2 separate regions of the Homo sapiens genome follow, and region 2 is linked to region 1. The links come from fine-mapping of genetic effects on gene expression. Tissue or cell type: spinal cord. Region 1 holds a variant in brackets; the other region holds the start of a gene. All regions are shown on one strand. Distances are from middle to middle.

What was found. PIP is the estimated chance that this variant, and not a neighbour inherited with it, causes the effect.
Region 2: it holds the start of C4orf33, and the variant in region 1 is fine-mapped to the expression of C4orf33 in spinal cord (GTEx, PIP above 0.99). The same link has a PIP of 0.9 or more in anterior cingulate cortex, cerebral cortex, prefrontal cortex, putamen, sun-exposed skin and testis.

What each region holds. Positions count from the first base shown.
Region 1 is chr4:128,812,967-128,815,652 of GRCh38, forward strand. The region is part of intron 1 of JADE1 (jade family PHD finger 1); the gene reads left to right. Among named protein-coding and RNA genes, the nearest start is that of JADE1, 4.6 kb to the left of the region's middle. RefSeq lists enhancers at 1-571, 572-1,153. The variant C/G (reference allele first, on the strand shown) is at 1,518.
Region 2 is chr4:129,094,914-129,097,599 of GRCh38, forward strand. It overlaps C4orf33 (chromosome 4 open reading frame 33), which reads left to right and starts at 1,239. Exons shown (of 6, transcript NM_001099783.2): 1 at 1,239-1,296.

The DNA of each region.
Region 1 (2,686 bases):
GTTTTTTATTAGGTGAACTATTTTTCCTTTTTATAATACCCGCCATGAAGGCTAGCTCTCTTGCTACTTGTAGCTCAAGGCTAATACCTTTCAAAGCTAATGAACTAGTTTTAAGATAGAGGGAAATTATTTCCCTGAAAGCTGATTTAGGTAGTGACTCCCCAGTGGTTACAGATTTTATAGTAAGTTGCATTTTGATCATATCACAACTGATCAAGATTTAATCACAGGTGGAGAAAGGTGGAGAAAGGAAGCATTCAATATGTCCATACTTGCATTGAGTCAACACTTTTGATGTAATAATTTGTTGTAGGTGGGCAACATACGTGGGGGGAGTTAAATGGGATGTTTTGTGAGTAACACTCTTAGCAAGTACATGCAACCCAGAATTTTTATTGTCCTTTTATCCCAAAGATCTTAGTCTCATTTACTTACGGTCACTTTTTTTTTTTTTTTTTTTTGTTCCTTGAGACAGAGTCTTTCGCTCTGTCACCCAGGCTGGAGTGCAGTGGCATGATCTTAGCTCACTGCAACCTCCGCCTCCTGGGTTCAAGCGATTCTCCTGCCTCAGCCCCCTGAGTAGCTGGGACTACAGGCGCGTGCCACCACGGCTGGCTAATTTTTTTTTGTATTTTTAGTAGAGACGGGGTTTCACCATATTAGCCAGGCTGGTCTCGAACTCCTGACCTCGTGATCCGCCCGCCCCGGCCTCTCAAAGTGCTGGGATTACAGGCGTGAGCCACCACGCCCAGCCTGCTTACGGTCACTTGTAAATCAGATGACTTTCTGCTTGGTATTTTGCTGTCTTCTTCAAAGTTTGGATACTTCTATAAGTGTCTTTTACTTGGCATTGTCATTTTAATGTGTAGAATAAATATAATTTTAAGCTGTTTAAGTGTTAGGTTTCCTGCTATTTCCTTTGGTCCCTATTTAGCAGAGATAATGGGAGTGTCTGAAAGTAAGGTAGAACTTGAACTTGATTCCACCTTTAAGAGTACAGACTGCTTACTAGTAAAAGTTGGGTTGGCTGCACATATATTTTAGCTTTAACAAAGGTAGATATGTGTTCATTTAAAAGAAAAAAAAAAAACCCACCTTCTTAGTTCTCCCCGCTTCACTTGACTGGTTTTCTGCCTGTAAACCAGTGCTGTGCTTATATTAGTTATCCAGGTTGAAAGAGTAGCTATACAGGGACAGCAATGAAAAGTATGTGTGTCTGGGTGAAACTAGAGGGAGAAAACCTATTGGAGTTTGAGGAAATGTGTTTTGTTGCTTAGCCTAGGGGGTTGGAGAAGAAAGATGACCTAAAAAACAAACTTGGAGGACTAGGTGAGAGTAAAAGCAGATTTCCATTGCGTCTTACGTATAGTAGGCACGTGACCGATATTAATTTTTGACTTTAGCTGTTAAAAAGTTATTACACAAGTAGTGTTACATGTACGTTTTTGAAAATTAGAAAATACAAGGAAACAAATATAAAAACAAATTGCTACCATCCATAGATGACTACTGTATTA[C/G]TTTTCAGATAATTTTCTATGCATGTGCATGTGTGTTTTAATAAAAATGAGATACATGAATATACCATCTGTAAGGATTTTTTCTTTTTTTTTTTTTTTTGAGATGAAGTTTTGCTCATGTTGCCCAGGCTGGAGTGCAATGGTGGGATCTCACTGCAACCTATGCCTCCCAGGTTCAAGCGATTCTCCTGCCTCAGCCTCCTGAGTAGCTGGGATTACAGGCTCCCGCCACCACGCCCAGCTAATTTTTTGTATTTTTAGTAGAGACGGGTTTTCACCATGTTTGTCAGGCTGGTCTTGAACTCCTGACCTCAGGTGATCCACCTGCCTCGGCCTCCCAAAGTGCTGGGATTACAGGCGTGAGCCACCGCACCCAGCTCTGAGGACCTTTTTTTTTTCTGTCAGCTAGCTTGGTTAGTTTTAATATAATCTATTACTGTAACATGTCCAGATTTCCCCATTTAGCCCCAGACTGTAATAGAGAAGCTTTGTCTAAACCACTGCCTAATAAAGGACCATTTATTGCATTTGGTTGTTTCCCTTAAGTCGATTTTAATCTTAAGTAACTTTTTTTTTTTTTTTTTGAGACGGAGGCTTGCTCTGTCACCCAGGCTGGAGTGCAGGGGTGCGATCTCGGCTCCCTGTAAGCTCCGCCTCCCTGTAAGCTCCGCCTCCCTGTAAGCTCCGCCTCCCTGTAAGCTCCGCCTCGCGGGTTCACGCCATTCTCCTGCCTCAGCCTCCAGAGTAGCTGGGACTACAGGCACCCGCCACCATGCCCAGCTAATTTTTTTGTATTTTTATTAAGACGGGGTTTCACCGTGTTAGCCAGGATGGTCTCGATCTCCTGACCTCGTGATCCGCCCGCCTCAGCCTCCCAAAGTTCTGGGGTTACAGGCGTGAGCCACCGTGCCCGGCAATCTTAAGTAACTTTTTGACAGAATATCTGACACTGAGGAGGCAAGCCTTTGGAAATAAAGTTGCCTGGATTTTAAAAAAGCAGGAAATCCAAATGGTATTTATTGTAATTTGGAAATCTTAAATTTGGAGATCATCTGCTTGCTTGATGTTACTTTCCACAGACTTGTTGGAAAAAGATTTATCAGATGTTTGTGTTTCAGTACTGAGGTGGTTGGAACAGTAAACATCAAGATATCAAATACAGATTACAT
Region 2 (2,686 bases), 280 kb after region 1:
ATTGTCGTATTTCTACTTGGCATCAAATAAATAATTATAGACTTAACTCTACGCTTACACCCAAACTGGATGGAAGCAAATACCTTCTGGCTATAACTGATGAGTGGTATTTACATAAAGTGAATATCTCAGGTGAAAACTTTTATGTCTGCACTCGAATTTTTTAGCTTACATGATCATAATTATGATCATGATAGTTTTTTGTTTTTGCGTTTGTGTTTGTGGTTACAAGATTTTAGTAGTTGAATTTTAATGGAGTATTTTCAACATAAGTTTCATCATTAGGAAACAAAATTGTGATGATTTCACTTATCCTTAAAGGATCCCCTCTCATGTTCCTCCTTTTCACATCTCCTGAGTTCTTTATCCACTTCTCCCAAGGTAGGTGCCACCTTAGTACTTACTTCATGCTCCTTCCTGCATTATCTGTCATGTTTTGTAGTTTGTCTCCAGGCTCCATCATAATACCTGGAACACAGAGTTGATTAAATATCTGATGGAAGGAATGAAAGAATTCAGTGGATGTTCATGAAAAGTATCTATTAGTATAAATTGAATACAAGGAATGACAAGCAGAAATGTATGTAGTTTGTGTGTAACTCTTGTCAAGCCACCATTTAATGTTTTTATATGACTTTTCTGCAATAAAGAAAACCCCTAAAGTTGTATAGATTGAAAATTAGTGACATTTCACTAACATTCATTTGGTTGATCAATTGACATTGAGCACCCAGTACTATGTGCAAAGTACCAGGAAGAATACAAAGTTAGAAGTTTAAGCAAGGATCAGAACAGATCACACAGCTGGCAAGTGCCTGAGTTGAGATTTGAACCCAGGCAGTATGGTTCTAATTTCACAATTGTTAACTGCTATGAACATGCCTCCCCAGGAATATAGTATAATATAGTTTATAGCTGGTATAATATAATTTATAGTTTTTGCTTATATGGCCAGTTAGCCTTTAGTTGTATTAAATGAAATATTTCTGTACATGTTATATTGTAATCTTAATGATTTACAGTTGATTTTCAAATTATTGCACAGTATTTATATTTCTGAATCACCCTTCCTTCTTCTAGGAAACCACTCATACTTTAGTGGAACGATTAGAAGTCTTCAGTTGTTCATGTGTGGCCCTTCAACATCTTTCTTTCCTAGAAAAATCAAGCGTCTTAGCTTCAGTGTTCTAAGCCCCTCCCCCAGAACGTGTAGGCAGCTGGGTGGAGCCTAAAGCCGAGCCCTCTCCTGTGACCTCGGCTGAAAAGAAGAAGCCAGTGTTTGAGAAAAGCTTCGTGGTCTGTGTTCTCTAGTTGTTCCCTCTTCTCTCTGACATTCCTTTCGTCGTCGCCAGGTCTTGTTTTTCGCTTGATCTCTGGAAAATACTGAAAAGTATTTTACTTTTCAGCTGTCTCCTGCTAAGTGAGCGTACTCCCCCTTTCAGGCTGACTTCCTCATTTCTCCGTTTCCCTGATAAATGGGCGGGGCCTCGGGGAGGTATGGAAACTGAAAAGAAATCATTATTGTAGAAAAACTAAAGAAATTTTTGTTGAGCAGAGGAATTTGGAAATTTTCCTTGCAGATCATTTGGTTGAGAAAACACCTTTACCATAACTTATTTCTTTTAAACTTTGCGGACATTTTTTCTTTTCCTGGGTTCTTAATGCTCCAGTGTTCGGTCTCCTTTCTCTTCCTTCGTTTCCTTTTAGAGGTCTTTCCAGGTAAAGATAAAGCAATCAGAACAATTGAAAATTTATTTTTTTAACTTGTTTTAAGAGCAATTTGAAGAATAGAGGTTAAAAGTAGAAACATACAGAGTAACAATAAATATTGTATTAAGAAAGTCTAAACAGCCAAACTTAAAATTGCATTGCAGGACAGTAATCATCTTGATAATATGCATTATGACTTTTCGGAAACGTTCAGCATATATAATATAAAGGGGAGAAGAGGCAGCCACCATACTCTTTTTAAGAGAACCGGCCTTAAATTAGACTTAAAATATATATATTTTTTTGAGACGGAGTCTTGCTCTGTTGCCAGGCTGGAGTGCAGTGGAGCGATCTCTGCTCACTGCAACCTCCGCCTCCGGGTTCAAGCGATTCTTCTGCCTCAACCTCCCGAGTAGCTGGAACTACAGGCGCGTGCCACCACGCCCAGCTAATTTTTGTATTTTTAGTAGAGACGGGGTTTCACCATGTTCGCCAGGATGGTCTCGATCTCCTGACCTTGTGATCCGCCTGCCTTGGCCTCCCAAAGTGCTGGGATTACAGGTGTGAGCCACCGCGCCCGGCCAAAAAATAATTTTAAACTGTTCAGTTACCTTAAAATAGTAATGCATGTCTGTCATAGTGTAAAATGCAGATAGGTTTTTAAAAAGTGATGAAGTTGAAAGGAAGCCTTCCTCCTTCCCATATCTGCAGGCAGATAATTCCCTTCAGGGAAGCAACCACTGTTACCACTCGTTTCTTGGATGTTTCCTGAGATAGTGTATGCCTCACAAGCATATATGCAAATAAGCTTCCTTTTTATTAAATAAATGCACCTTGCTTTTTTTCACTTCACAACATATTTTAGCATAGATGTTAATTCAGAGCTGCCTCATTCATTTTAGCAGTTATACAGTGTTTCATTGTATGGTATAGCATAATTTTTTTTACCAGTCCTCTACTGATGGGTATTTAAGTT